Linked DNA regions of Homo sapiens: region 1 is linked to region 2. The links come from fine-mapping of genetic effects on gene expression. A gene starts in region 2. The other region holds a variant in brackets. All regions are shown on one strand. Distances are between the middles of the regions.

Evidence for each region.
Region 1: its variant is fine-mapped to the expression of NMB in naive CD4 T cells (Schmiedel 2018, PIP 0.90).

What each region holds. Positions count from the first base shown.
Region 1 is chr15:85,463,077-85,467,466 of GRCh38, forward strand. All of the region lies in intron 1 of AKAP13 (A-kinase anchoring protein 13), which reads left to right. Among named protein-coding and RNA genes, the nearest start is that of AKAP13, 85 kb to the left of the region's middle. The variant A/AT (reference allele first, on the strand shown) is at 2,031.
Region 2 is chr15:84,655,919-84,660,308 of GRCh38, forward strand. It overlaps NMB (neuromedin B), which reads right to left and starts at 2,281. Exons shown (of 3, transcript NM_021077.4): 1 at 2,078-2,281; 2 at 1,258-1,430. The coding sequence starts at 2,234. RefSeq lists a silencer at 2,237-2,396.

The DNA of each region.
Region 1 (4,390 bases), 810 kb after region 2:
AAAACAGAGATGACAGAAAAAAATCATCGCACTGTAGTTCAGTAAGAATTACTGAATTTGAAGAACAGAGAGAAAAGGAGATTGAAACAAAATGAACAGAACCTGGAAAATGTGGGACAGTCTTTAAAAGGTCTATAATATGCATGTAATTGGAGTTCTAAAAAGAAGGGAGCATGGGAAAGAAAAAAATATTTGAACAAACAAGGGATGAACATTTTATAAATTTAATGTAGGAATTATGTAGAGATCGTTGCCGTTTGACAAATTAAAAGGATGCTTCTTTCACATTGAGCCTAAGAATAATTTAGGCTTGACTTTCTTCTCCCCAATGATCTGATTTATCAAGCCTGACTGATTTCAGTTGCTGTAGTGTTTCTTTCTGGGTCTTACAGATCCACACTGTTATGAGATCACTAGATTAAATTGCAGCCAGGACTAAATTGCACAAAATGGTAGAATATATGGATGGTGGTTTTTTGAAACATGCCAGGGCTGGTTTCTTTCGGAGATCTGTAGTGAACACTGGATCTTTTTGTGTGTGCTGCTTTTCCCTCTGCCCTTTTTCTTTGCTTTCCTTTCCTGCTACCCTCTTCTTGTTTCTGAGAAAGGGCAAAAAGGAGACTGAAGCATTTGAGCTAGACTGGCTACATCAAAGGCAGTGAGTTCTATTGATATCTGAGTCAGCTGCAACATAAAGCGACTACTGGGGAGGCTTTTGTTGGGTCTTTACTTTTTTTTTTTTTCCCCCTGGGTGATGTTGCTGGTGGCAGTGCTAGGAGTCAGTTGGTAATGAGTCCTTGCCAATGTGCCTTGATTGAAATTTGGAAGCCAGATTCCTGTGATTTTAACCATAACCTTTTTAGAAATGCATACTTGTATGCTCAACAGCCAGGTAGTATGTACTGCGGAAGCCATAATGATTGTTACAGTTTTGAATTACTGCTCCCGAGGCCCTGTTCCTACTTCTTTTTGTCCTAGTTGCTCTTGAACCACCCCGATGATCACTCTTCCCTTTCCCACACGGCGTCTATGATCCAACAACCAAAGGGTTAAAGTCTGGCATGCCTTCCTCTTTTCTGTTTTATCTGACTGGCGACTTTCCTCTTCATAAATACTGAAATATCTCCCTTCCCTGTCCCTGTTGTGCCTGTGCCCATCCTTGTGTGTGCTCTAGTATGTGTTAAAAATAGTTGTTAGAAGTCCAGTTACAGATTTTGGAAGGTAATACAGTCTAGAATTTAAAAAAATGAGCTTTGGATTTAGGTTGACTCCAGAGTTTATAACTTTTGAGCAGTGTCCTTAAACAAGTTCTTTGAGCCCTATTGTCCATTTTCTTGTAGAATATGGATAATATCTATTCCTGAGTTTTGAAACTTAATCTGTATGATAAGCCTTCCACATTCATATTTATTCCTTTGATTTCATTTTGGTTTTATCATAGCCAGTTATCCTAGGTCATTTCTAACTCTCTAGTTTTTGTATAATTATTCTGTTTTAAGGAATTAATTTCAAAGAGGGAGGTTAGAACTGGTAGGTTCTTGTTCATCTGTCTTTACCAAAGAGAAGTCTGAGGCTCAGAGTTAAATTGAGCTGCTCAAGCTTATATAACTCGGAAGCAGTGTAACTAGAATTTAACCTCAGGCAGTCTGATACCAGAGTCAGGACTATTAACAAATTTGTATCAACATCTCTCTAACAATAAGGTTATGTCGGTTTAGAATTTTCAATTGCTTACCCCGTCCCTTTTTCTTCTTTTACTAGTTCTTTAATTTCTAAGGATAGGTTAATGATGAAACCAGAGACTAAACTGTAGTTTTCTCCTAAACCTGCTTGTAATTACCTTTATTGATCTTTAGGCATTAATTACTTTTTTTATTTTTTTGAGATGGAGCCTTGCTCTGTCGCCCAGGCTGGAGTGCAGTGGCACGATCTCGGCTCACTGCAAGCTCCGCCTCCTGGGTTCATGCCATACTCCTGCCTCAGCCTCCTGAGTAGCTGGGACTACAGGCGCCCACCACCACGCCTGGCTA[A/AT]TTTTTTTTTTTTTTTGTATTTTTTTTTAGTAGAGACGGGGTTTCATGTGTTAGCCAGGATGGTCTCGATCTCCTGACCTTGTGATCCGCCTGCCTCAGCCTCCCAAAGTGCTGGGATTACAGGCGTGAGCCACCACGCCCGGCCAGGCATTAATTACTTTTTAACCTTGCTGTATATATCTGTTCTTTAGTAGGCTAGAGATCTTTTAAAGGCAAATATTTGGATCTTAGTCATTTTTAAAAAAAATTTTATTATTATTATACTTTAAGTTTTAGGGTACATGTGCACAATGTGCAGGTTAGTTACATATGTATACATGTGCCATGCTGGTGTGCCGCACCCATTAACTCGTCATTTAGCATTAGGTATATCTCCTAATGCTATCCCTCCCCCCTCCCCCCACCCCACAACAGTCACCAGAGTGTGATGTTCCCCTTCCTGTGTCCATGTGTTCTCATTGTTCAGTTCCCACCTATGAGTGAGAACATGCGGTGTTTGGTTTTTTTGTCCTTGTGATAGTTTACTGAGAATGATGATTTCCAATTTCATCCATGTCCCTACAAAGGACATGAACTTATCATTTTTTATGGCCGCATAGTATTCTATGGTGTATATGTGCCACATTTTCTTAATCCAGTCTATCATTGTTGGACATTTCGGTTGGTTCCAAGTCTTTGCTATTGTGAATAGTGCCGCAATAAACATACGTGTGCATGTGTCTTTATAGCAGCATGATTTATAGTCCTTTGGGTATATACCCAGTAATGGGATGGCTGGGTCAAATGGTATTTCTAGTTCTAGATCCCTGAGGAATCGCCACACTGACTTCCACAATGGTTGAACTAGTTTACAGTCCCACCAACAGTGTAAAAGTGTTCCTATTTCTCCACATCCTCTCCAGCACCTGTTGTTTCCTGACTTTTTAATGGTTGCCTTTCTAACTGGTGTGAGATGGTATCTCATTGTGGTTCTGATTTGCATTTCTCTGATGGCCAGTGATGGTGAGCATTTTTTCATGTGTTTTTTGGCTGCAAAAATGTCTTCTTTTGAGAAGTGTCTGTTCATGTCCTTTGCCCACTTTTTGATGGGGTTGTTTGTTTTTTTCTTGTAAATTTGTTTGAGTTCATTGTAGATTCTGGATATTAGCCCTTTGTCAGATGACTAGGTTGTGAAAATTTTCTCCCATTTTGTAGGTTGCCTGTTCACTCTGATGGTAGTTTCTTTTGCTGTACAGAAGCTCTTTAGTTTAATTAGATCCCATTTGTCAATTTTGGCTTTTGTTGCCATTGCTTTTGGTGTTTTGGACATGAAGTCCTTGCCCATGCCTATGTCCTGAATGGTAATGCCTAGGTTTTCTTCTAGGGTTTTTATGGTTTTAGGTCTAACATGTAAGTCTTTAATCCATCTTGAATTAATTTTCGTATAAGGTGTAAGGAAGGGATCCAGTTTCAGCTTTCTACATATGGCTAGCCAGTTTTCCCAGCACCATTTATTAAATAGGGAAGGATCTTAGTCATTTTTGAATCCTTTGGCAGATTCAGTTTTGTATCCCTCTTCCCATTTGTACTGTCTAGCACTGCATCTTATTCATCATAATGGGCACACAGTACTTTTTATTGGTGACAGTGATGACTTGAATAAAACCTTTGAAACACCAGAATAAGCTTTTAAATTTTTGCTCAGTTGTTAAGCTTTGGAATCTTGGAATTAAGAGAAACTTAAAGATCCTTTGATCTTTTTCCTGGTTAATCTTCTTTAATTTTTGTCCACTGCTATTTTTACAACATGATTTTTATTTTGTTTACCATCCCTTCACTTTGTTCCCAACCTTTTAAAAATTTTATCTGTGTCTGTCTTGGTGGGTTCCCAGCATGGACCATTATATCCTAGGTTTGTTAAGTAAATAGTAATTTGGAATCACTCATTACCTTCTCTGCATTGGATACTACATCTATTATTGTATTAACTACACACACACACACACACACACACACGTATGTAACTCAATCATCCGTGTATTAGTGCACACCAACAATCTTGGCACCCATTTTATACTGTTGATTATTCATTTGTGAACACTATAGTATATTTTACAAGTGCTTCTGTGCTTTTCTACCTTTATTTGATGTAGTTGATTCTAAATATAGACCTTGCATATATGTATATTCAGTACTTGGTACATGGTAGGTACTCAATAAATGTTTGAGTGATTGTGATTTTGAACTTGCCTACTTTGCGAGCCCTCCTTCCCACCTTTCCGCTTCACAGCATCCTCATATTACCTTGTGATCTGTTCCTACTGGGCCACCATTAATTGTTCCTTTAAAGAGCCATGAGTTATTTGTGTCTCTGTGAACAT
Region 2 (4,390 bases):
GCTGGGTTGGACCTTTTCTAGGGAATGCCTCTCCCTTCAAAATGCACACACTATATGCTAGGCACACTGGGGGATATGAAGGCGAGTCTACAACAGGTGCCGCCAGGGAGCTCACAGACTGATAAGAGCTCGCATCTACTAAGGGCTGTCTATGAGCCAGGCACCATGCTGAGCATTTGACATAAATGGTCTCATTTAATGGGAGATGGGCCTTATTATCTTCATTTTATGGGTGAAGAATATTGAGGCTTTAGAGAAGTTAAGGGACATTTCTAAGGTCATACAGCTACTAAGTAGCTAGGTTATGAGCCCAGCACGTTGTAGTCAAAACCCACATTCTACCACATCACACTGCCTTCTGCACACAGCAGCAGGACCAGGGAGGGTGGTGTGCAGTAAGGACAGCACCAGGAGCAGGGAATGAAGGAGTTGCCACTCAGCGGGGCTATACCTTGAGGCTAGCTTGGCTCCAGCTTTGGAGTCTTGAATCCCATAGATCAGTGACTGACAACCAATAATGATTTGGGGCCCTCTCCCCCAGCAGACATCTGGTGATGTCTGGAGGTCTTTTCAGTTGTCACAACTTGATGGGGGGGAAAGATGCTACTGGCATCTAGTATGTAGAGACCAGGGATGCTGCCAAACATCCCATGATGCACACGTCAGCCCTCACAAGAAACAGTGATTCAGCCTAGAACGTCAAATGTACTGAAGTTGCTAAACCCTACCACTGGATACTGAGGCAGATGAGAGAATGGGAAGAGCTCCAGTCCAGGTGAACAAGGTCCAGACTCTGTCTTGGCTGCTGACTTCTCTTTCCCTCTCTGGGCCTCAGGGTCCCATTCCGGCCACAAGCATACACAGGACACAGCAAAGGTGGACTTGACTAATGCAGCAGGGAACAGCATGGGTGGGACAAGACTGTGTAGACTGGGGGAGAAAGGTCCTGCTCCAAAAGGCTGATGATCCCAGTCTGTTACTTTAGACTGGGTGATGAGTCAGGGGAACTTCTTTCCCTACTTCTTGCCCCATGGGGTCTACTGGGAAGGTCAGCTTCCTTTCTTTGGACTGTTCCTCCTTTGAGCTCTGCCTCAAGAGGGAAAAGCCTGGAAACCTGGCTTTCTGGGGTCCACACCCATAATGTCCTAGTCAGACAGTCACACCCTAATACAGTACTGGGTGGTAATTCCTCCCATGCAGGATCCGGGGATGGCCCCAGCTGGGCCCTCCTGACATTGGAGCAGGGGCCCGGCTCACCTGGATTTGGGGTGCGGGGCGGCTGAGGCTCACGCCCAGAGCCTTCTTTAGCAGGAGGATTCCGAGCAGATCATGACTCAGCTGCAGTCGCTGGTCCCTCAGGGAGGTGTGGGGAGCTGTCCCCAATGGGGATGGGCTGGAAGGCTCCAGACTCTTCTTGCCCATGAAGTGACCTGGAAAGGAGGTGTCCAGGCACAAGGAAGTCAAGCAGCCAGGATCCTACCTCAGAGGAAAAGTTCCTCATCTCTCCCACGTTTCCGTTCTTGTAGCGGGAAGACACTTAACCTTCCTCCTCTTGGTGCTTCCACCTCACCAAGGAGCCACAAAGGTGTCTGGGTGGTGGCAAAGCCTGCTCCCTCAGCTTTTCCTGAACAGGTAGAGAGGATGGCACAGCTGGCAGGAAGGTGGGATGGTCCAGGGCCAGGGAGAAACTCTGCTAGTTGTGTGGGCTGCTTGGACAAGGGACGAAAAAGGGCAGGGTAGGAAGTGGAGAGTGAAGAGGCGCCTGGAAAGTGGAGGTGCAGCAAAAACACACCAGCGGTTAGAAGATTCGGTTAAGTCTCGCCTAAGGTAAGGGGCACCGGCTGGCAGTGGGATTTAGGATCTAGCCCAGCCCTGTCTTAAACTGGCTGCGCGACCTTAGCCAAGTCACTGACCTGTCCGGGTCTCAAGTACATATCTATTAAATTAGATGAGCCCCAGGGTTTTCCACCTGCTCCGACACTAGTGTCCGTGGCTGAGGAGCGGCCAGAGGGTTGAGAAGGAAATGGGGTCTGAACTGGATGAGGGGCGCTTGCTTGCTCCGTCCCCAAAGACTTACCGGTGGCCCAGAGGTTGCCTCGCGAGTGCACTCGGATCTTGCTGGCTCGGCTGCGGGGCTCCGGGAGATCCCAGCTGAGCGGGGCGACGCCGGCAGCGAGCAGGGCGAAGAGCAGGAGGCTGCCGAACATCCGAGCGCCCCCCGCCCGCCGGGCCATGGCTGTGCCCGGGCCGCGGCTTCGTTCGGGCGCGCTTCCCGGCCGCTGGGCTCCGGGGCTGCCTTCGATCCTTTTAAATCCGCGCCCCTGGGGGCGGAGCCTGCCCTGAGCAGCGGAGCCGTGCCCCGCGCCCGCCGCCCTCCCCGCCGTCCCCACCCTCCCGCTAGGTTACCAGGCAGGGGCACCCCCTTTGGGCCGCCCAGAGACCTGCACACCCACACTCTGGCCCGCACGCGGGCACCGCTTCCGCCAGGGGCTTCTGGCGGAAGCCCGCCACCTTCAGGCTAAGGACCGGGCACCGGCCAAACAGGGGCCCGGCCCCGGCGGCGGAGCCGCTTCCCCTGGCCCTGCCTTGCCACTCTGCCACGGCTTTCGGCCAAATAGGCACTTCAGCCCTCTGAGCCTCTCTTCATGAGGGTAGAGGTCGGGCGAGGAGCTCTCCTCCCGGGTAACAGGCTTTTTTTTTTTTTTTTTTTTTTTTTTCTGAGACAGGATCTGGCAGTATCGCGCAGGTTGGAGTGCGGTGGCGCGATCACGGCTCACTGCAAACTCAACCTCCAGGGCTGGGCTCAAGCCTCAGCCTCCCCAGAAGCTGGGACCACAGGCACACGCCTTCATGCCTGGCTTTTTTTTTTTTTCTTTCCAAGAGACTGGATGTCGCTAGGTTTCCCAGGCTAACAGAGGCATTTTTACAGTGTCCAGCCAAGTGCTAGGCACCAAAGGACTTCCATAAACTAATCCCCATCACCTCCGCCCTTTGGGGGAATCTGACCCGTGTTCACCTTGCTCTCTGCCCTCTCACAGCCAGCATCACAGTCTGGAAATGTTCTGGCACACAGTAGGTGCTCAGAATGGGAATGCAGAATGATGGAGGGTGGGACAAAGGGCCGCTTCTGAGGAACGGGCATCCAGCTGGAGGGCCTGGCTTATGGGCAGGAAGCAGACCTCTGGGTCAAGAAAGTGGAAAGAGCACTGCACCCAGGACTGCACTGCACCCAGGAGTCCATGTACAAGCTGTGACCCGGCTGAACCTCACTTTCTTCAACTGTAAAATGGTAATAACCACACTGCCCTAATTTTAATACTTTTACATGTTTTAGCATAAGTACTCTGTGGCCGGAAGCAACAATTCTGTAGGACCTGCCCTCTCACACCTGGCACTTTGTTCTCCCCAGGAGCTGTCTGGACTTTCTTGGAAAGAACTTCTGGATAAGTGGTATCATATAATGAGCAGAGGAAAACACTGTGCTCCAGAAGAATACATTTATGTTTGCTTAATTAACTGAAACCCATTGTTCAGAGCACTACACTAGACACAAGAAGAGGGGCGACAGATAATTCCTTGCTCCCAAGGGAGTTAACCATCTCATTGGAGAGACAAGTACACAAAGGAGAGAGTGATGGAGGAGCGGGGGTGCAGACCACCCCTTGGACTCTGGATACCTCTGGAACACGGAACAGAGTGGCCGTACCAGAACCTACTCCCATCTGGCTTGATAATGGGACCTGCTTCTAGGACTCTTGCTTAGTATCTAGCTCAGCAAGGTTGCTAGCTCTGTGGATCCTCATCCTAGAAGGGGAAGCTCACATGAAAAACTGGCTGTCATACCCAGCTGGAGGCCCAGCTTCCAGGAGCATGACACACAGGACAGGGACGTTTCATTTCTGGCCCTGGCTTTCCCCCCAATCTCCTTGCTTCTCACCTCCCACCCTGGCATTTACACCTCTCTGCTTTCTTGTCACAGCTTAGCCATGGTGTACAGATATAGCTCTTATCACCTTCCGGTAATCATTCCTTTGTGACCCCCCTCCCTCTCCTCTGCATCCATCAAACCCCCATCCTATCTTCTCTAGTCCATGGATAATAGAAATTAGCGTGAACACACAGAAGCTGGTATTGATTGAGTGCTGCATCACTTAAATGCTTGAAGGAATCTTATTTGGTAGGTTTCTGTCTCCTCATTTTTATAGGTGGGAACAGGCTAAGAGGTTTAGCCACTTTCCCAGAAGTCCCACTGGAATCAGATTTCAGGTCTGTCTGGACCACTGCATCAGGCCCCCAAATCTATGCAGGGCAGATACAACTCTCCCTAAACCACACCCACTCCCATTGTACCATCTCAAATTTCAACACCAAGTTGTGTTTATGTATCTCA